Regions from separate parts of the Homo sapiens genome. Here region 1 is linked to region 2. Evidence: fine-mapped expression QTL. A gene starts in region 2. The other region holds a variant in brackets. All regions are shown on one strand. Distances are between the middles of the regions. Region 1 holds the start of SMIM9 (small integral membrane protein 9). Region 2 holds the start of GAB3 (GRB2 associated binding protein 3).

Region 1 (11,970 bases), 80 kb after region 2:
AAAAAGAAAGATCAGAAAGTGCAATTAGACAGGAAAAACAAAAGTTAACACCACCGCCAATAGTAATAAAACAACCTATTCACTACCACAAGGAGATAACCAATGTCTAATACTTGGGTTAGGTTCTTAGAGGCTTTCCCCCTATACAATTAGTTTTTAATAAGAAATTAGACTAAACTATATATCTTCTGTTATAATCTGCTTTTTCCACTCAATGATATTTCATGAATATGTTTCTGTGTAATTATCCTTAGTACTCAGTGTATGAATGTGCAATACTTTCTTTAGCTAGCCCCAGACTGATGGACATTTAAGTTTCCATTTCTTCACTATCGTAAACCATACTAAAAATTCCTTGTACACATATCTTTGTGGACTTGTTAGAGCCTGTCAGTCCTCCTGATTTCCACCTCTGCTTCTGGAATGCTGGGAGATTAGCCAAGCTTCCATGTGCCTCAGGTAATAAGCAGCTAGCTTAAGCCTTCATTACAGCTGCAGCTAATGGTATACACAGGTGAGTATAGAGGAGGAAGAATGAGGCACAGAGAGGCTGTGTGCAATCCTCACTGTGAAATGTCTTAATTAAAAATCAACAAGTATTACTGAGAGTCTACTATGTGCCCAGTAGCAAGTCCCAATTTTTCCTGGGACTTGATGTGTCCTTTATGACCACAGACTCCAGTCTTCTTTAATTTCTGCAACACTTAAAAAATTATAACTTGGCTGGGCGCGGTGACTCACGCCTGTAATCCCAGCACTTTGGGAGGCCGAGGCGGGTGGATCACGAGATCAGGAGTTCAAGACCAGCCTGACCAACATGGTGAAACCCCGTCTCTACAAAAAATACAAAAATCAGCTGGCTGGGCGTGGTGACGCGTGCCTGTAATCCCAGCTACTCAGGAGGCTGAGGCAGGAGAATCGATTCAACCCGGGAAGCAGAGGTTGCAGTGAGCCGAGATGGTGCCACTGCACTCCAGCCTGGGTGACAGACTGAGACTTCACCTCAAAAAAAAAAAAAAAAAGTCAGGAAACAACAGGTGCTGGAGAGGATGTGGAGAAATAGGAACACTTTTACACTGTTGGTGGGACTGTAAACTAGTTCAACCATTGTGGAAATCGGTGTGGCGATTCCTCAGGGATCTAGAACTAGAAATACCATTTGACCCAGCCATCCCATTACTGGGTATATACCCAAATGATTATAAATCATGCTGCTATAAAGACACATGCACACGTATGTTTATTGCGGCACTATTCACAATAGCAAAGACTTGGAACCAACCCAAATGTCCATCAATGATAGACTGGATTAAGAAAATGTGGCACATATACACCATGGAATACTATGCAGCCATAAAAAAGGATGAGTTCATGTCCTTTGTAGGGACATGGATGAAGCTGGAAACCATCATTCTCAGCAAACTATCGCAAGGACAAAAAACCAAACACCACATGTTCTCACTCATAGCTGGGAATTGAACAATGAGAACACATGGACACAGGAAGGGGAACATCACACTCTGGGGACTGTTGTGGGGTGGAGGGAGGGGGGAGGGATAGCATTAGGAGATATACCTAATGCTAAATGACCAGTTAATGGGTGCAGCACACCAACATGGCACATGTATACATATGTAACAAACCTGCACGTTGTGCACATGTACCCTAAAACTTAAAGTATAGTAACAATAAAAAAAAAAGAAAAAAGAAAAAGAAAAAATTATAACTTTTTCTTCTGTTGGATTATTTTGGTTCTCTTCATCGAAGAAATCATTCTGTGCCTCCTGCATCTACCATTTCTTCTCTAATCTTACTTTCACCAAACTGTTTACTTAATACTGCTTGCCTATATAATCCTATTTTCCATATTTTCTTTCATATTTTGCACCAATGTCTCTTTTTCTTCATGCTTCCTCATTTTGGTGATAGTTTTACTTTTTGTCTTTTACATTTTTCTTGGGATTTTCCAACTAATTTTCATCTTCTTCTTTTGTTTTGGTATACCTTATCTGCCCTGTTGTATTTCTGCATATAGCATTTACTATTATTATTATTGAGATGAGGTCTTGCTATGTTCCTAGGCTGGTCTCAAACTCCTGGCCTTAAGCAATCCTCCTGCCTCAGCCTCTGAAAATGCTGGGATTACAGGCATGTGCCACCATGCCCGACCTTAGCTATTATTTTATATTTTGTATCAAATGTTTTGAATTTATGGCAATATGTTAGTACATGGTTTTTATCTGCCCTGAGATATTTTTCTAGTGAGTATTCCTCATCTGCCATTTCTTGCTTATACGTTTCTTGTGTTTTCCATATAGTAACTCTGCATAGATCTGGTGCTGTTTCCTGTTGAATGAGGTAAACTCTTACTGGACCAGTTATTTACAGGAGATGTGCACAAGTCCAGAGCTATACTTTGGACTAACAAATTCTCTTCATGATGCTGAGGTATGTGTGAGCTCTTGTAGCCTTTACTTCTTTCCAGTCAAGTGAGAGCAGCAGATGTAGGTCTGAGCATAAAGAAGTTTCAGACTTTACCTTCTTGCCTCAACAAACTGCTTCTTAAAAATATGGCTTGCCTATATGCTTATTCATTCCAATTTACCTGTTAGGCTTCTACTTGGTGCCCAACTGGGTCCAGAAATGTTTCTTTCACTAGTTAGCTTGCTTGTTCCCAGCAAGGGCTTATTGGCTTTTCTATTCAGGTTAAGCCATCTACTTCAAAGAAGGAATTCTTTTTCTTGGCATATTGCCTGCTTTATCTTCACAGAAGTCCCTCTGAATATTAATTAACCAATACTTCAGATGCTTTTGATGCAGCTGACCTGCTGACCACAGTTTGAGTAACAATGACTTCAAAGATGTGGAACCAGACATATCTTGATTTGAGTTCCAGCTCCCTTGGTTGGTTGCTAGGTATACTAGTCAGGGATATTCAGCTGCTATAACAAACAATCCTGAGATCTTAGTAGCTTAACACAATAAAATTGATCCTTCACTCATGCCTCATTCTGATGTAAGTTAAGTTCTCCTCCACAAGGTGATTCAGGGATCCCAGCTCCTTCCATCATGTGGTTTCACCATCTTAGAGTCCTTCAGTTGAAGCCCTGCATATGTGAAAGAGAGAGGCAGCATGGACACATGTGCAAGACATTTTATGGCTAGGCCTGGAAATGTCATACATTCCTTTTGCTCGTATTTAACTGGCCAAATCTCAGTACTGTGGTCCCAGCCTAACTGGAAGGAAGGTTAAGAATATAATGTTACTCTGTGCTTGGGGAAGAAGGAACAGGATTGCTGAACATATAGCCAGTCTCTGTTACAGTCTGTCTTTCTGATCACCCAGTATCTGTTTCACTTTTCCTTTCATACGTGGAACACAGCCACCCTGTCATGCATATGGAAATATTCCACCCATATTTCCGCTTGAGAAAGGCCTTATTTCCCTAGCTGCTGAGAGTGTTGTCAGCAGAAAGCCTCTACCTGTCAGCTCATTCAGAGTCTGCCTCAGCTGCAGAGAGCTTCCATGTACTTTCTGGGGGCAGCCCACATCCAGTGAATGACTGAGGTGGGGTTAGAGAGGTCCAGCCATTTCAGCCATGTGGGACAACCCTGATGGGGCCGACTGAGTCTTTGTTGGGCTTGCAAGGCAGTTTGATTTCTCCCTTCCACCCCCTATCTTCCACAGGCATTGATCATTAATTATACTCTGAATGCCAAATTCCGGTCTCCCTGTCTAGTTTCAGAATACCTGACTTGTGGCAAACCCTTTCCTCAGTACTAAGTCACACTCATCACTGTGTCCAGCTCAAAGTCCAGAGTATCTGGGTGATGCTTAGTTCTCTCAAGTCTGAGGGTGGCTCTGCTTGGTTAAGTGACCTATGAACTAAAACGAGTTATATGCTCCTGATCTCCACACCCCAGAATAATGATGGAACAGGAAGAGGATAAGCACCATAAACATTCCCATTTGGAAATAGGAAGAATGAGAGACACACAGCAGTCACTGCTCTGTGGCAATCCTGGAGTCCTGGTAGGTAGGCATGGATTAGGCCCAAATCCTGCTTTCAAAGGGTGACTCTGTGGCCCATTGTCCATTCTCTGGGAGGCTCTACTGATCCATTATTCTCTATGGCTGCATCTGAAGCAAATGTTGGGACCTTCGAAGCTGGTGTCCTTCTTTTTCATGGAAAGGTGGAGGCCTAACTATTGTTTACAACAGATGGCTCATTTAGTTCTGGCTTATGGTTTCTCTGGCAATAAGCTTCTCTCAAAAGCTTAGCTGACTTCTAATCTATTTGTCTCCAATCAGTTCCATGTGCCAGTAACCACATCCAAGGTTGCTTCCTAGACACAGTTCTTGATCCTGTGATCATTTTGAGGTTACAGGAGCCATAGGTGATGCCACACCCTTAATCTGATCTTTATCCTCAGCCACTTTTATTAGATTTTTGAGCTCTGCAGGACCCCCCATTTCTATTCTCTATTCCCTTTTAGTTCCTCTTGCAAACTGGCCAACTATTTCCTGACCTCATCTCTTTAACACCTTTGTTGATCACTTTCATAGGTCTCCCCACTTGGACTCTGTCTCCCACAATAGCAATGACCTACCAATTTGTAATTTTTAATTGTCTTCTTTCTCTGCCTTTCTAGCAACAAGCACAGAGACAAGCAAGTAGTCATTTGTTGGTAAATACTGACTGAATTAACAAAATTTAGCTCAACTATTTTGTTTTCCTCAGGATTCTTTTGGCTTCATATGATTTATGTAGATAAATATTATGATAAATTTTCAGGAAATTGAGAGCACAGCTAATTATTTATTTTCTATGTATAGTTCTTGAGCCACAGGGAAGAAAAATTAGGAGTTAATAAAGTTGATAAAAGAAATGACCATTGGAAACACTAGTCATTAAATGTGACCTGTCAGTCACTGGTAACAAATGGAGCAAGTTGGAGGAAGTAAAAGAGAAAGTAGACATTTTAAAAGGGGGTTGCATGACCTTTCACAGTTTTCCTCCCAGAATTGAATTTCTTAAAACTTTCCCTTAATTACAGATATGCAGGCTGGTGAGCAACCTGTTTCTGTTCCCACCCCCCTTCACATTCCCTCTCTCCTCCCTGTCTCTTCTTCCCACAGAAGCTTACGTGAAGCAGCAGAGGATCCCCATTAGTGCTGAGGTGAGAAGAAAAGCAACAATGGCTGCTGGAGGTAAGGCACTCTTGATAAGTTGCCATAAGTAATCCCTGAAGTTGTTCAGCCAGGACCTGTGATTACCTGCAGAAAGAGCATAGACATTCATTGAGGAGAGGTCAAGTAAATGATAGGGCTGGCGTTTGAATCCAAATTCGAGTTCAAATAGTTGTCCCAGATATCATGTTCTTACAGTTGTCCAGAGCCCATATTCTAAACTACTTTGCTGTGCTGGCTGTAAGATGTTCAAAGGGCAAACATTTTGTTTTTAAAGTATCCTGAGATGGATATAATTTTTGCCTCCTTGTAAGTCAAATAGGAACAATAATTGTTGTTTCGGATATCTTGAGTATATTGGGTACTTTTTGAAAGAGAAGCATGACTTGATAACAAGAAAGTCTTTACTAAGGTGTTGTTGCCTAGAGTATATCTGGGAGTCCTGCAGGAGGCTGAGGAGAGGGAGTATCCCAGGAAGAGAAAGGAGAAGGCCACCAGCCCTAAGAGCAGAGGAGAAAGGGGCCAGGGCCACTGGAAGAAGGACCTCTAGGGGGAGTTTGCTGATCAATGTAAGGCTGGGGATGTTGGGTCTTTTCATTAGCAACTGGGGGAGGAAGGTACAGTGCTTTGACCCTGAAGAAAGAAGGAGGGGAAAACGAAAGTGTCTGCAGCATGGAGTTGAGAGGATTCACCACTAACCAGCAAGACACTTGAATAGCATGTGTGTGCATGTTGGAACCTAGATTGTGGATCAGTGGACCATCAGGTTTATTTTCAATTTCACCTCCTTTGTCAAGTCTTTCCTGACCCCTCCCCCAAAACAATTTAAATTATCCCCTTGTCCCCTGGGAGCATTGATCATACTCCATGGAAGGTTGGCATCTATGGCTTTGTCTGCCTATCTGTGAGCTCCTTCATAACAGAGGCTGTTCAATTCCTAATCCATGTAGTTCAGAAAAGGGCTTGGTACGTAGTAGGTAGGTTAATGCTTGTTGAACTAAATTGAACCAAACCAGAATAGTTTGCTTTCCTATGAACATTCTTTTTAAACATGAAATTCATTTTACCTGACCTGAACTGAAACATGAATCTTAAGTCCTATGAAGAAAGAAACATTCATCCTAACAGCAAACACACCCCCTGAGCGTGGTTTCGATCCTGTTTTTTCTTGTATTCCCAAGGCAGACAAAGGCAAAGGAGAGGAAGCTACTGTCTCCAACAAGAGGCAAGTTAGAGAGCATAGCAGAAATCCAATTATCAGCAGCTTCTGGGGTTCCATGGACTCCCGCCTTCAGCTGCGGCTGAAGAGCTGGTAATCCTAGCTCACTCTGCCAAGGAGAGATGTCTTTGTCCGTAGGTCTTTCCACAGAAACTTTGTCTGAAAAGTTAGACAATGATGGTTTAGCTCATATTCCAAAAATCTTCTCACCATCACGAACATAAGGACAATTGACTGACTTACACAGGTGACTCCTGAAAATGGTCAGTTTCCAAAGCAAAATATATCCCCTCCAAGAAAACAAAACAAAACCTGACTATGCTCTATCAGGTCAGATACCGGACATTCCTTCCTACACCTGATACCTTTTCAATCTTCCCCAACTCAATTAGTAGAAACTCTTTCACCTGTTCAGGCTGAAAAAGGTACATTCACATTGTTGTGCAACAGATCTCTAGAACTTTTTCAACTTGGAAAACTGAAACTCTAAACAGCTCCTCATTTTTGTTTCTATGAATTTGACTACTTTAGATACCAAATATAATAAATTTCTATATATTTTTAACTCCATGATATATTTTATATATTCAAGTAACAAACTTTAA[A/G]TTGCTTTAAAAAGTAAATGTTTGCTTAGATTTACATATATAGTAATGACTCTTCTTTTTCTCTCATACACTTTATCCATCAGAAAAGTCTAGTCACCTTTACTTACAAAACGTATCCAGAATCCTGCCACTTCACACCACCTCCACTGCTACCCACCATCATCTCTGTCTTTCTGCTTCCGTCCTTGCCTCCCTTAAGCCTCTTCTCCAGTGAGTGGCCAAAGAGATCTTGGTAGGTTGTAGGTCAGATTATGTCCTAGTTACTGCTGACCACATATCCTATGAGTCTCCTCTTGATCATCACTCCAACTTAGCCTCATTTCATTTTGAACAAGCTAGGCATGTTCCTACCTTGGGGCTTTTTAACTTGCTTTTCCCTTTCCAGGGAATGCTTTTCCCCCAGGTATTCTCAGAATTTATTTCCTCACCTCTGTCAGGTACTCAAATATCACCTTCTCAATGAGGATTTTCCTTAGATCCCATTGTTAAAATTGTACCACCCTCCTACAAACTTCCTAATTGTCTTACCTGCTTGATTTTTCTCCAGAACCTCATCAGAACCTAGTAGAATATATTTTACTTTACTTTATTATATGTATCTCCTGAATATAATGTAAGCTCTATGAGTGCAGGGATTTTTGTCTGTTTTGTTCACTGCTAAACAGTACCTAGCACATAGGGTATCCAGGTGCTCAATAAATATTTTTTGAATGAATGGCGACTTTTGGCAGATATTGTTCCCACCCATTTTTCATTTACTACATCCAACTAGATAAGCTGAAAAAGCTGAATCCTCCCTTTCTTAGCCATCCTTGAAGTTAGGCATGGCTATGTGACATAGCTCTGGATAATGAAACATAAGGGAAATCTGATGGATAGCTTTTGGGAAGGCTTTTTGCTGTCTTGATAAAAGAGATGGTGCTACCATTTTCCCTTTATGCTGCCTTGAATATTGCTTAAGAAATGTTGCCTGAAGTTGCTCTGATAATTTCAAGCCACTAAACTAACACCTGTATCTGCTTACTTCTGGACTGCATGGTATGAGAAAAATATACTTTTATTTGAGCCATTATAATTTGGGCCTCCTATTACTTAAGACATTTATAACTGATACACTCACCTACTGTTTGATACGGCTTAAAGAGACCCACATCCAGCGGGAAACCACTTACCTGAAAATGGACTTAGGACCACGGAATTCAAAGAAACCAGTGGAATTAGGCCTTAGTCTTTAGAGGGCAGAAGTCTTCAGAAGAAGCTGGTCAGTCTTCTCCTTAGGTCTCTGAAGTTCCAAACAGAATTCCACCACTCCTTATGATATCACTGATTACATTTAACCCTCCCCCAGTCTCCTTATTTGACAGCTAAGCACACAGACATCATTTTCTCTCTATGTATAAACATCTGTGTTGATACCAAAACCCATCCTTGCAGTAGTTCTATCCTCTTAGGCTTGAATAATTCTAAGATATTTTATTCACCACATGGTATCTAACTATGCATTATAATAACATATATATGTGGCATTTCATATCAGGGAAAAAGACCTTATTTAATATGATGTTGGGTGTGAGCCCTTTGCCATGCTATGCAAAATAGAAATTCTAGATGGATCCAGGACTAAACAAAAAATAAAATTATATACAAAATATGACATTTTCTGTCATACTTTTATGATAGAAAATTCTATGTGTGGATATTTTTATAATCTTGGTGCAGAAAAAGCTACTCTAAGCATGTCATAAAACCCAAAGCCATAAATGAAAATGCTGATAAATTTATAACATAAAAATGTAAAGCTTTCATATAGCAAAACATTGTTTAAAAAAGATAAAAGGTTAATGACAAATTAAGTAATTTCACAGCATATACGACAGACATTCAATTAAGATTGTTAACGTACAAAGAACTCTTACAAACTAATTAAAAAGAAATAGTACTGGCTAGGCACAGTGGCAGACGCCTGTCATCCCAGCACTTTGGGAGGCTGAGACAGGAGGATAGCTTGAGCCCAGGAGTTCGAGACCAGCCTGAGCAACATAGCGAGATCCTGTCTCTACAAAAAATTTAAAAATTAGCTGGGTGTGGTGGTGCATGCCTGTAGTCCCAGCTACTCGGGAGGCTGAGGCAGTAGCCTGGCTTGAGCCTGGGAGATTGAGGCTGCAGTGAGCTATGATCATGCCACTGCACTCCAGCCTGGGGGACATGAGGGGCTTAAAACCTAGATGATGGGTTGATGGGTGCACCCAACCACCGTGGCACATGTATACCTACGTAACAAACATGCATGTTCTGCACATGTATCCCAGAACTTAAAGTAAAAAAAAAAAATGCAAATCAAGTCGAGGCAACATAGCAGGATACTGTCTCTACAAAAAATAAAATATTAAAAAAATTAAAAAAATAATACTTATCCATAGAAGAACTGGCAAAAATGGTATCTCAGTTAGGTTCTATCAGAAAACAGAGCTACCAGGAAATACATAAAATGAAAGTTTTTGTAGAGTCCTCCAGTCTCCCCCAGTTTCTTGCTGTGTCATGCTAGAAAATCATGGAGTGGCTTGATCATTCTGTGACCCAGCCAACAGGCCTGAATGAAAATTAGGACCTTGAACATTCCCAGGCGCTGATAAAGGTGTATCTAGGTTGTGACCCGAAACACTGGAGGAAGCTGGCCCTGGCCCTTGAGCCAAATTCCTCTAAACCCTCATATGAGCTCCATACCCTGACCTTTCTGTGGAAGGAAAGGTGAGGTGAAGTGGAGAAAGCAAGTATACACTGGAAGCCTGAAAAGAGAAGAGCCCATGAAATGGACTAAAACCTGCATCAGTCTCATGTTATCTCCAAGCTTCTAACTTCGATGGTGGAGTAACATGCATGAGAAGGTCAGGTGTTTTCTGAAAGAGCTAAACACACAACTTTTCTAGGATTTGGAGAAGCTAAAAGATCCAGCAGGAGCTGGAGGACCTGCAAACTTGGTCACTGTCCTGTGCCCACCAGGTAACCCCACAAAATAGTGACAATGTGAATAAGCTGAAAATGAGCATTGTATGCCTGTCTGACTTTTCCATTGTAAAAAGAATATGGCTGTCATATAAGTTAACTTTAGCTGAATGAAAAATGACCTCCAACTTAGCAACTGTGAAGAAAACATTTATTACCTTATAGTTTCTGTAGGTTAGTTTTGGAGTGGATGATGAGATTGGAGTCATGTATCTGCTGGGACTGCAGTCATCTGAAAGCTTGACTGTACTGGAGGATCTACTTCCAAGATGGTGCACTCACATGACTATTGCTAGGATGACCAAAAGTCCCAGCTTGCCTGGGACTCAGGATTGGCTTCATGGGAGTTTGATCTATGCAGGTCTACAGGGCCCCACACCCTGAGGGGCCCTATGTTTCGTTTGCTCTGATGTCACTGTCTCGAAATTCTTAATAATTTTATCTTTGATCTTGTGTTTTGTAAGGGAAGTTTAATGAGACCGCCTATTTCATCACACTCATTTTCTCCTCCCCACTGACTTTGCCAACATTCTTCTCCCTTTGAGTCTCACTGAACTCTGATGCATTGTGGGTCCACTAGAATGTTATGCTCATGGGCACTGTATACATTCTTTGCTATTCTATTTGCACATAGTGTTTACAATGCATTTTTGCATTGTTGTAAAACTGTAGTAAGAACACAACGTGGTATCTGCTCTCTTAACAAATTTTTAAGTGCCCAGTATGGTATCGTTAGCTATATGCACAATGTTGTACATTAGATCTGTAGAACTTAATTCATCTTGCATAACTGAAACTTTTTTTTTTTTGAGATGGAGTCTCACTCTGTTGCCCAGGCTGATGGAATGCAACGGCACGATCTTGGCTCACTGCAACCTCCACCCGCCTCCCGGGTTCAAGCGATTCTTGTGCCTCAACCTCCCAAGTAGCTGGGACTACAGGCATGTGCCACCATGCCCAACTAATTTTTATATTTTTATTAGCGACGGGATTTCGCCATGTTGGCTAGGCTGGTCTTGAACTCCCGACCTCAGGTGATCCGCCCGCCTTGGCCTCCCAAAGTGCCAGGATTACAGGCATGAGCCACTGTGCCCAGCAGCATAGCTGAAACTTTATGCCCATTGAACAGAAACTCCCATTTCTCTCTCAGTCTCTCTCTCTCCATATAAGCTGTTCTCCTGGATTGAGGCTCCATTTCTGATTTATTTTATTCAGACTCTCATGAATTATATCATTTTTACTCTGAGTTCAATTTAATCTGGTTTTCTAACTCACTAATTTGGTTTTCTAGAGTGTCCATCTTGCTATTCAGTGCCCCTATTTGTTTTAAAAATCAGTGTTCACATTTTTATTTCCAGTGTAAAAACACAATTCTCAAAGGCATTTGTTTGTATGTGTCAATGTTTTATTTAACTCATTACTGAAGAAACCAGCAGGAAAATAAAAGAGCTAGTTCCATGAACATTTGAGAAATAGAGATGTATATAGTCAATGGGAAAAGAATGCCAAAATAAGATTATCAAGTTAAACATAACAGGAAATAAAACCATATCACCTTTGGGGTTAACTCCTCTACCGGGCTATAAAACAAAACAACTTATTCATTTCTGTAAGTTAGCCTCTAAACTTTAAGAACTTCACAGGGCTATAAACCATTTGCACCTGCATCATTTGTGGATTGTGACTATACTGTGACAGCTATGTTATAGTTTCCAAAGAGGTCAGATAAGGGTCAAGCAGGATTATTAGAAAATACTCCAGCATAGAAAAAAGTAGCCATTCTTTTGCCTTTTCTCAGATTGGGATCCATTTTTCTTTCATATTAGGATCTCCTGTTTTCCATTTGCCCTGGGTTGCAATCTTTGGATGCTTCCTCCAACTGCTCTATAACTTATCCTTGTCTCCAGCCCCCTTTACTATCAGGAGATTCTGTGTAGTCATAGTGAAGGGGT
Region 2 (11,970 bases):
GACTTCAAAACAAGGAATAGCATCAGGGACAAAGCAAGACATTAAATAATGAAAAAGGCTTCTATTCCCCAAGAAAACATAGTAGTTCCAAATGTGTATAACTAGAAATGGAGCATCAAAATATGTGAAGTAAAAACAAATAGAACTGGAGGTAGAAATGTGGACACTGTGGACAAATCTACAATTACAGATAGAAACTTTCACATTCCTCCCTCAGTAACTGAGAGTAAAAGTGAACAGAAAATCAGTAAGGATACAGAAGAACTGAATAACATTATCAACCAACCTGGCCTAATTAACATTTATAGAACACTTTACCCAATGACAGAAGAATACATATTTTTTCAAGTGCTTATGTACATGAAGTGAAACTATATTGTGGGCCATGATATACATTTAACAAATTTTAAAGAATATAAATCATATAGAGTTTGTTCTTAGATCATAATGGAATTTAACTAGAAATTAATAATAGAAAGATATCTAGAAATTCCAATATTGGGAAATTACATAAACTTCCAGAAAACCCTTGGATCAAAGAGGAAATCTCAGGGGAAAATTAAATAATACTTTGAAATGAATTAAAATGAAAATGCAACATATCCAATTTTGTGGGATGCACCTAAAGTAGTGCTTAGAAGGAAGATTGGCCAGGTGTGGTGGCTCACGCCTGTAATCCCAGCACTTTGGGAGGCCAAGGTGGGCTGGATCACTTGAGGTCAAGAGTTCAAGACCAGCCTGGCCAATATGGTGAAACCGCATCTCTACTAAAAATTCAAAAATTAGCCAGGCATGGTGGCAGGTGCCTGTAATCCCACCTACTCAGGAGGCTGAGGCAGGAGAATTGCTTGAACCCAGGAGGCAGAGGTTGCAGTGAGCTAAGATTGTGTCACTGCACTCCAGCCTGGGTGACAATGCGAGACTCAGTCTCAGAAAAAAAAAAAAAGGAAGATTATAGCACTAAATGCTTATATTAGAAAATAAGAAAGGTCTCAAATCAGTAATTTAAGTTTCCTCCCTAAGGAACTAGATAAAGAAGTGATTAAATTAAACCCAATGCAATCAAAAGGAGGAAAATAATAAAGATAAGAGGATAAATTAATGAAATTGAAAGCAGGGAGAAAGTAGAGAAAATAAACGAAACCAAAGGATGGTTCCTAAAAACTAATGTAATAAATGAAAACTGAGGCATCACTACAAATCATACAGGCATTTAAAGGATAATAAGGGAACATAATGAACAACTTTCTGCCAATAAATTCAAGAACTTAGACAAAATAGAGAAAAGCCTTGAAAGACACTAACGACACTCATTCAAGAAGATATGGATAACCCACATAGCCCTATATCTATTAAAGAAATAAAATTTGGCCAGGCCCAGTGGCTCACACCTGTAATCCTAGCACTTTGGGAGGCCGAAGCGGGTGGATCACCTGAGGTCAGGAGTTCGAGACCAGCCTGGCCAACATGGCAAAACCCTGTCTCTACTAAAAATACAAAAATTAGCCAGGCATGGTGGTGGGCACCTGTAATCCCAGCTACCCGGGAGGCTGAAGCTGGAGAATCTCTTGAACCCAGGAGGTGGAGGTTGCAGCGAGCCAAGATCGTGCCACTGCACTTCAGCCTGGGTGACAAGAGTGAAACTCCATCTCAAAAAAAAAAAAAAAAAAAAGAAAGAAAGAAAATTTGTAGTTGATAGCCTTCCCAAAAAGAAAAGTATAGGCCCAGATGTTTTCAATGGTGAGTTCTACCAATCATTTAAGGAAGAAGGAATACCAATTCTACACAACATCTTTCAGAAAATACAAGAGGAGGGAGAACTTCTGATTTCATTTTATGATGCCAGCATTATGCTAATATCAAAACCAAAGATAGCATAAAAAAGGAAAACTGCAGACCGATATCCCTCATGGACAGAGACAAATATCTTCAGCCAAACTATCAGCAAAGCAAATCCAGAAATATATGAAAAGAATAATATGTTACAACCAACTGAAGTTTATCCCATAAGTTCGAGGTTGGTTCAACATTTAAAATCAAGCAGTGTAATTCACCATAGTAACAGACTAAAAAATAAAAAACATATCATCATTTTTATAGATGCAGGAAACACAACAAAATCCAACTCATGAGAAGAAGCCTCAGCAAACTAGCAAGATGGGGGAGCTTCCTCAATTTGGTAAAAGGTGCCTACAAAAAGCCTACAGCTAACATACTTAAAAGGTGAAAAATGGAATGCTTTCCCTCTAAAATCAAGAAAAAGTCAAGGATGTCTGCTCTCGTCATTTCTATGCAACATTTATAGTATTGCAGGTTGCAACTACAGACAAGGCTATTAGAACTAATAAGTGAGTTTAGCAAGGCTATGGGATATGAGGTCAGTGAAATCAATTGACAAACCAATCCTAAAATTGCCATAGAAAAACAAAGGACCTAAAATAGCCAAAACAACTCTGAGAAAGAAAAAGTTTGAGGGCTAAAATAACCTGATTTCAAGAATTATTGTAAAGCTACAGTCATTAGTCATTAAACAGCATGTTGTTGGCATAAAACAAATAGATCAATGGAACAGACTAGAGAATCCAGAAATAGATCTACATGGATATGGTAAATGGATTTTTTTTTAGATAGTTTTGCTCTTGTCGCCCAGGCTGGAGTGCAATGGTGTGATCTCAGCTCACTGCAACCTCCACCTCTGGGGTTCAAGCAATTCTCCTGTCTCAGCCTCCCAAGTAGCTGGGATTACAGGTGCCCACCACCATGCCTGGCTAATTTTTTTTGTGTTTTTAGTAGAGACAGAGTTTCACCATGTTGGCCAGGCTGGTCTTGAACTCCTGACCTCAGGAGATCCTCCAGCCTCAGCCTCCCAAAGTGCTGGGATTATAGGCGTGAGCCACTGTGCCCTTCAGGTAAATTGGTTTTTGATGATGTTTCAAAAGTAAATCAATGGAATAAAGGCAGTCTACTCAATAAATAGTACTGGAACAAATGAAATCGGTATGCAAGAAAAGAAACCATGATACAAACCTCACAGCTTTTATAAAATTTACTCAAAATGGATCATAGATCTAAATATAAAATATCTAAATATAAAATATAAAATTATAAAACTTTCAGAGGCCAGGTACATTGGCTCACGCCTGTAATCCCAGCACTTTAGAAGGCCAAGGTGGAAGGATCACTTGAGGCCAAGAGTTGGAGACCAGCCTGCGGGCAACATGGAGAAATCCTGTCCTCTCTACAAAAAATACAATTAGCAGTGCATGGTGGGGAGCAGCTATAGTGCCAGCTACTCAGGAGACTGAGGTGGGAGGATCACTTGAGCCCAAGAGGTCAAGGCTGGGTGACAAAGGATCTTAGGCTAGATGAAGAGTTGTTAGATTTAACATTAAATCCATGATTCATAAAAGAAAAATTGTATTGGGGATTTCATTAAAATTTTTAAATTTTAGTTCTTCAAAAGAGGATGAAAAGACAAAAACTATGGGCTGCTAGAAAATATTTGCAAATTAAATATGCAACAAAGAACCTATATCCAGAGAACCTATATCCAGGGACAAAAACAGTGCCTGGCTCTTGGCATTGTTTTGAAAACTAAATGAGTTAATACAAGTTCTTAGTGTAGTGCCTGGCACATATAAACATTCAATAAAAGTGAACTATTATAGCTTTATTATCACTGTTATTATAGGACTCTTTAAAATGGATAAAAATAGATGCAAGCCAAATGTTCACCAATAGAGAAATTGTTATATTATATGTATTACAAGGAATATTTGACAATGCTTTAACGAATGAAGTAAATCTATATGTACTAACCTGGAAAGATGTCCAGGATGTTTGTGAACAAAGCAAATTGCAGGACCGTTAGTAGAATATGATCCCAGTTGTGCAAAAAGAAAATTATATATTTTCTGAAAAATTTTGTAGAATGGTACTCACTGAACGGCTCACAGTTGTTATCCCTGGGTTGGGGAGTGGAATAAGGAGGAGAGCAAAGGGAAGGTAGCGGGGTAGGGGAAATTTAAAGGGGGTCTTCACTTTTCATTCTATTTATTAACATAAGAATATATTTCTTGTGAAACAAAAAATACAGATGAAAATAACTATCTTTTAAAAGACCAGTGATAAAAAATAACTTTCTGATTGTCTTCACTGATGGATTCAAGTGGATGAAGTACAAGCCTACTTTGGACTGAAAGGTTTACCTAAAAACTGCCTGAGCTTCCATTTGTAACAGCAAACATTGATGGAGTGCTGCTTGCTGGCCTGGCAGCACGAATAACTGAGTTATTGTCCTGGTTGTGCCAATAACTAGTTTTGCTATGTTACTATTATAAATGTTAAACTATAAACTGGAATCAAGTCTTTTTTTTCTGTCTTCCCAGCCTGTAACACAGGGCCTAGTTCGGAGTTAGCGCTCCGTTAACGGGAGGGAGTGACAGGAATTGAATTTAAGCAGCTGTAACAGCCCTATCCAGGCCCCGTCGAAGTGACACATGATCACCATCTAGTGGTGAAAAAGATTCCTGCAGAATTTAGCTATGAGAGGAAAAAGAATTCTTTCTGTGGTGTGTTCCAGGGACAGATGCCTGTCAGCGAAAAAAGCATTGACTAGATATGATCTTTCTTAGAGACAGTTCCCAAACATCAAGGTTTATGTCTTGGAGTGTTGGTAAGATGACACCTAGGTACTCTTGTGTCTTAAGTCTAGTCACTGCCCCATCATCACACGCCCCACATATCTCTAAGCTGCGCAGTGTCCACTCTTGCCACATCCCCTAAAGGAATGAACCGCGTGTGATAATAGGCACACACACTCATGCCTTCCCAAAGTTGATGAAATACTAATAAACTTCCCTAAGCCAGTCTGCTTAAGATACAAAAAAAGACTGGGAAATAAAATATTCTATAATCTTTGCCCTCCAGGGGCATCTTTCTGTATCATCTACTGAAATTGTATAGTGAACCTTTAAAATGTCTGTCATTCCAAAGGACAACAAGGAAACCCATCCTGAGTCAACACTGCAAGCACTACTGTGTGACAAAAGCCTCACCTGCTCATGCAGGTGATGGGAGCAGGTTTTCTTCTCTTGCCTCCTTTGAGTAGCTTCACAGTTAAGGAAGCAGCTGGATAATGCAGAGGCCAAGAGATATTGGACCCTGTGCTTATGGACTCCTGGACTCAAAAGCAAATGATGTAGGGACACACTGGCACTTAGAGAAATCTCAGTATTTATGCACTCCTGATATTCACGTGCTAAATAGAACAACCTTCCTCTAAAGTTCTGTTCTGCAGAACAAACAACAAAAATCTTTTCAAAGACCCCTAAGAGAGAAACACACACTGTCTAGCCCGATGTGAATGGGGAAAGAGGGCTTGAGCAACTCTATGTTCAGGAAAATCTCCTGCCACACATTCTGGAAGTATTCATACATTATTAAAGTCTTTTTATAATCCCACCTCTTGAACTTCCACACAATATGTGCCTCATCTATGTGGGAACAAAAACAGTTGTGAAATTTGGCCAGAAGAGGACAGCAGTTTGAGAGCACTGTATAGACAAGAGCACAAGGCTGAACCACATTTGGGGTGGGCTGCTTTGGATGAGCGCAGACATGCGCGAGTTTGTTCCTACCACCGTGCAGTGAAGTTGCAGAGAAATTAGGAATTAAGAACAAGATGAATCCATCCAGCTACTCCCAGCCTAAAAAAAGCAAGAAGTCCTAATAGCTATTTATATGCAACTCCCTGGGGACTGAAGTGGTTCTTCCTAATGGCTGAAAAACACTGAGTAGCAATCAGGTCTTTAAGCAGAATGTTTTTAAGACCTTATCGTGAGGACGCTGATGGAGATAATGAACGTTTGAGGTGTCGATAGTACATCTTAAAACGGTAATGGAATAGGTAGGAAGATTCGCTCTTCCAAGTATTCCTAATTTCATATTAGTAAAAGTCAGTTGTCCAGCTGGCACTATAAAAGCGCGGTGTCAGCATTAAGAAGAAGCTGAAAGGAGTTACACGATGAGAAACGAGTTACACTGTGTAGGGTTCCAGACAGCAGTGTCCGATGACAGCTACAAGAGCAGCACTCCTTACTCCTTACGGTCCAGGGGGAATGCAGGCAATTCCCCTCTGGCTGTCAGTCTCCCTATCCCCTGCCGCGTCTCCTTCGCGGGGCGATGGGTCTCAGAGCCACCCCCAGCCAAAGAAAGGGGCACGCTTTCGAGATGTCTCCCTGGCCGCTCCTGTACGGAGAGTGGCGCCTGAGGTTTCAGCCCCAACCCGCCTCCCTCCGCTAGAGTCAGCGGCGGTCTGGAGTCCCTGAGCCCCGCGGGCAGGCGCCACCTGGTCTCCGGCCCGCTGCCTAGCACAGCGGCGAAGCTGGCTCGACGTGCGATTTCGGTTTCCGTCCGTCGGCCTCGCCCGCAGTCCCGGGCGCTGGGAGCGGCTGCGCCTGGCGCGCCCGGAGCCCAGCGGCTCCCCGCGGCCGCCCCGCGGGCGGGTGCCCCGGGACGCGAAGGCCGGGCGGGTGGCGGCGCCCCTACTCACGTAGCGCTGTAGCTTCCTCTCGGGGGGCGACTTAACGAGCCAGCCGGTGCACACTGCGTCGCCCGCACTCATCGTGGCCGCCGCCGCCGCTTCCTCCAGCTGGGCCAGCCGCCCGCGGCAGAAGGAAGTCGGGCCAAGGATGCCGGCGGGGCGGGCCCAGCGCCCGCCCGCCCAGCGCCGCCCCGAGCGGCCGCTGCGACCCCCGCCTCCGGCCGCCGCGGCCCCCGGGGAGGGAACCGACGCCGCCCGCAACCCAAGACGGCGGGAAAAGCAAGCAGCGAAGCCTGGGAAGCCCCTTCGAGCAACTGCAGCTCCGCCAGCGGCTGTGCCCGGGGGGGGGGTGTGGGGGGGGGAGCCTACGCAGCAGGGCGCCTGCCACTCTCACCCAGGGTCACGAGAAAGCGCTCGGAAGGAGCCCTGCGACCTAATGGGAGCACAGCCTGGAACCTGTTGCCCTCATGCCCCATCCCCAATCCGCCACGCCAAACGGGCTGGTCCCTGGGTCTCAGGGACCCTGGAGCTGAAACCCAAGTACCACCTGCATCTGCCATGTGCATAGTTCACGGAGAAACAAAAGCAAGACTCCTCTTGGACTTCCCTATTCCACTTGATTGCTTGCACAGTAGTGTGTTTTCTATGTCCCTCCCCCAAAGATCGTTGTATTCAGTGATAAGCTTTGCCGGCTAAACGGTCTAAATGTCTTAATGAACCCAAATGACCCAAACTCAAAAGGTAGTGCTGTTTGCAATCTCTTTGACTCGAAGGTTTTAAAAGATGGATCTAAAGTCGATTGTGCCAACTAGTGTGCTGACCACGCTAAGTAAAAATAACAATCATGAGCACCTAACACTTGTGACCTTCCTTACTGCCAAGCTAACACCATGCCAGCGATTGTGCTAAGCACTTTCCAGGCGTTATCTCATTGAATCCACACAACACCCTGTCAAAGGGCTCTTATTATTATCTCAATTTTGCAGGTTACTAAAATGAAAAACAGGATGACAGTGTCACTTGTCGAGAGCCACACGAGAAAATCATCCATAGGCAGCCAGAGCTGTGTCAAGAGCCCATCCACTTAAGCACCACCCTCTGCTTTTTGTGGGTATCATCTATGTGACGTTTGCTAGCATCTTCAACAGAATGACCAACCTCCCATCCTATCAGGCCAGATGCTTCAGGGTGATGAGCTAACATGGTAACACCAGTGGAGTCCATCAGCATGCGCACACTGGCTTATAATGATTTTCTTGTGTGAGATAATGTCAGTGTGAATAATGGGTTCAGTAAGTCAATGGGCAGGAGTGCCAGCAGAAATGTGAATTTTAAAAAAGCGAATCCATGTACAAAATTAGTACCTGTTCAAGTGAGAAAAAATTGCTGCCCCTTCCAGATGGCAGTCCAGGTGGCTGTCTGGTCCCCCCAGGGAATGCTGTTATTAAGGGTTCATTGTTTGTCTCTGCCTGTGGGCAGCTTGAGCACTTAGCAGTGGCTGTGGCCATATCAACTGTTGCCAGTCCCTGAGAGCCCCACTATGCATTGCTAATTCTCTAAGTCTTGCTTACACCTCTGTTAAAAAAAAAATCCCTTAATTATACTTTCCTCATTTCAACCCCTTGAGTCTACTGTTTGCTTCCTTTTGAAACCTTGACCGATAGACCTGGTCATGAGGAACTCCCTACGACATTCTGGGTGTAAGTCCAGGGAATGGTGATCATGCAGCAGCAGGGGCCACAAAGATGTGAGCCACCTGCTCTAGCAACTTTCCTGTACCTTCCAGACCTGCTTGAGTCTGGTCTCAAATATTCCACTTCCAAAAGAGGATGAAATAGCACCAAATTTATCAGTGGCAGCTGAAGTTCCATGGTTCTTTGGTGCCCCATGGTCAAGCATTCAGACTTTGCCACAGCCCAGGAGCAAGCTGGAAGCTGTTGGTCAAAAGGAAAATACTTCTTTTGTGGTAGAGGGCATGGTTTACTTCAAAACTCTAGGGCTTTGCTGTGTGTTTCTCCTACTGGGACTTGCCAGAGGCTCCGTGTAGCCTCCCAGTGTGTCAAAGGTCCTGTACCTGTTGAATCTACATGGTCATAAGGGTCAAGTGGCCTGGACCTGTCACAGAGCCTTTTCTTGCCCTGGATCTCTCCCCGAAAACATGCAACCCTACAGATGACTTGCTGAGTGCATTGGTGCGGCACAATTAAATGTAGCATATGTTGCCTACAAAATTCAAACATCCACACCAAATGCCGTGCCTCTTTCTGAGTGGTAGGTGGTAAGCGGTACAACAACATGTTGAATACCCAACGTGGTCCAGACCATCTAAAAACTTTGCTGAGGTTCAGGCTCTTGAGTTTTCATGGGGCTTATCTCCTGCCCTGTGGTGTACTTGTATCTTAATAAAGCATCTAGAGTATTCGCTACCTCTAGATCATCAGGTCCAGTACATATGTCATCAGTGTAATAAACCAGCACAACATTCACAACAATCAAGCTCCATTCAACGTGGATTATGACAGTGAGCCAGAGAATAGATATAGTCCTAAGGTTGTACTTCTGTTCCCGCTAGATGAAAGTAAGCTGCTTCTAGTGTTCTCTGCTGAATGGGAAAAAATAACATTTGGCAAAGGAATAGCTGTATCCCAGGTGCCAGGGGGCTATGTTGATTTGCTGTAGGAAAACAGCATCATCTGGAATAGCAGCTTCAGTTCGAATCACAGCCTGATTAATTCTACAATTACCCACTACTAATCTCCAGACTAGCCAGATGGGTTAAATAAAGATGTGATATGAGTAACTATTCCCGTATCTTTTAGGGTACCCTGTTCTCACTGCCAGAGAAATCGAAATTGTTCCTTTCATGGAAACCCATCTTAGCTTCTCTGCACTCTAGCCTGGGGAGAGGAGAGAATTTGAATAGCAAGTGATTTTTGGCACCTGCATTCCCTTTGTGGCTTCCCCATTTATTTTTTGTTTAAAATACACTTTGTTTCACAGTTCATTAACTTCTGTAAATCTTATAACTACAAACTTGTGAAAATAAATGCCTACTATTACAGAAGAGTTTCTATCTCAATTTCATCATGATGAGTCAAAGTGACTATGCATCTAACTTATTTGCTATGAAAAGAAAATTTGAAAAGAAAACTCTGGATCATAGACAGGCAGGGGAAACAGCTTCAAATGTGTGTGAGAGTCAGTAATGAGGAAAAGGACTGCACCTTCCTATATCTCCCACCTCCCACCCACCTCTTGATTTAATAAATCTAAGAAGTATGTGAATTAAAGGCCTGGAGTGCCATGGCACAAGTTCAGATAGGGGAACACTCTTTTTCCTCTATAGGCATCCATAAACGACTTCTCTATGAGTTAAAATCATCTAATTTTCATGTGGAATATGAAATTTGACTTTATTATTATCAGTGATAGTCTTTCATCATATCCATTATTGTTGTATTTAAAATTGCCCAAAATTGGTCAGGTATGGTGATTCACACCTGTAATCCCAGCCCTGTGGGAGGATGAGGCAGGAGGATCCCTTGAGCTCAGGAGTTTGAGACCAGCCTGAGCAACATAGGAAGACCTCATCTCTAAATAAATAAGAGATTGCACAAAATTGTTGTCATAAGTCCAAATCAAACACTTCTCAATTCATTCTATAAAGCCAGTATTACTCTGATACTTCCAAAACCAGAAAAAGTTAAAAAAAGAAGGCTACATGCCAATATGCCTCATGAATATAGACACAAAAATCCTTAGAAAAATACTAGCAAATAGAATCCACAAATACATAAAAATAATTATACACCATGCATCTCAGAGATGCAAGGCTTGTTCAATATTTGAAAACCAATTAATGCAATACAGTACATTAACAGACAAAAGAAGAAAAATCACATGATTTATCAGTTGATGCAGAACGAGCATTTGACAGAACTCATGACAAAAACTCTCAGAAAACTCTCAGAAAATGGGGGAATTTCCTCAATTTATTAAAGAACATCTGCAGAAGACCTACAGGTAACATCATACTTGCTGGTGAAAACCTGGACACTTTCCTCCTAAGACTGGGAACAAGGCAAGGATATCCACTCTCACCACTTGTATTCAACATAGTACTAAAAGTCCTAGTTCAGTACAATAAGATAAGAAAAAGAAACAAATGGCATAAAGATTGGGAAGAAAATGTCTCAATTTGCAGAAGATAATTGTCTCCTTAGAAAATCTCAAGGAATATGCAAAAACAACTCCCAAAACTAATAAGTGAGTTTTGCAAGGTTGCAGGATACAAGGTCAACACATAAATCTCTTTATACGATTTCAAGGCTTATTATAAAGCTACAGTAATCAAAACTTTTTGTATTGGTGAAAGGATAGACATATAGATAAATGGTACGGAATAGAGAGCCTGGAGATAGGCTCACATAAATTCGTCCAACTGGTTTTTGACAAAGGTGCAAAAGCAATTCGATGGAGGAAGGATAGTCTTTTCAACAAACTGTAGCAACTGGACGTCCATAGGCCGAAACCAAACAAAAAACCTCAACCCAATCCTCACACCTTATACAAAAATGAACTCAAAATGGATCCTAGATTTACATATAAAATGTAAAACTACAAAACTTTTAGAAGATAAAATAGGAGAAAATCTTTGGGACCTACGACCTGGTGATAAGTTCTTAGACATGGCACCAAAAATGCAATCCATAAAAGAAAAACTTGATGCCAGGTGCAGTGGCTTATGCCTGGAATCCCAGCACTTTGGGAGGCCGAAACAGGAAGATCACTTGAGCCCAACAGTCTGAGACCAGCCTGAGCAACAAAGGTAGACGGTGTCTCTACACCAATATTTTTTAAAAAAATTAGCCAGGTGTGGTGGTGCACACCTGTAGTCCCAGCTACTCAGGAGATTGATGCTGGAAGATGGCTTCAGCCCAGGAGATTGAGGCAGCCATGAGTGACAGAGCAAGACCTCACCTCAAAAAAAAAAAACAAAAAAAAAAAAAAGAAAAAAGTGATAAATTGGACTTCATCAAAATTAAAACTTGTGCTCTACAAAATACCTTGTTAAGAAGTATAAAAAGACAGCCAGGCATGGTGGCTCACACCTGTAATCCCAGCACTTTGGGAGACCGAGGCAGATGAATCACCTGAGGTCAGGAGTTCGAGACCAGCTTGGCCAATATGGTGAAACCTCGTCTCTACTAAAATTACAAAAATTAGCTGGGCGTGGTGGTAGGCCCTTGTAATCCCAGCTACTCGGGAGGCCGAGGCAAGAGAATTGCTTGAACCTGGGAGACAGAGACAGAGACAGAGGTTGCAGTGAGCCCAGATCATGCCACTGCACTCAAGCCTGGGCAACAAAACTGGAACTCTGTCTAAAAAAAAAAAAAAAAAAAAGTATAAAAAGACAAGCTACAGAC

Evidence for each region. PIP is the estimated chance that this variant, and not a neighbour inherited with it, causes the effect.
Region 1: its variant is fine-mapped to the expression of GAB3 in whole blood (TOPMed, PIP above 0.99).

What each region holds. Positions count from the first base shown.
Region 1 is chrX:154,824,387-154,836,356 of GRCh38, forward strand. SMIM9 (small integral membrane protein 9) reads right to left here and starts at 10,276. Exons shown (of 5, transcript NM_001162936.4): 1 at 10,177-10,276; 2 at 8,188-8,297; 3 at 6,329-6,569; 4 at 5,149-5,278. The coding sequence starts at 6,470. It overlaps F8 (coagulation factor VIII), which reads right to left. Exons shown (of 26, transcript NM_000132.4): 26 at 11,406-11,970. RefSeq lists enhancers at 3,466-3,545, 3,566-3,615. The variant A/G (reference allele first, on the strand shown) is at 7,016.
Region 2 is chrX:154,744,401-154,756,370 of GRCh38, forward strand. GAB3 (GRB2 associated binding protein 3) reads right to left here and starts at 6,677. Exons shown (of 10, transcript NM_001081573.3): 1 at 6,554-6,677. The coding sequence starts at 6,625. RefSeq lists silencers at 6,323-6,382, 6,553-6,632.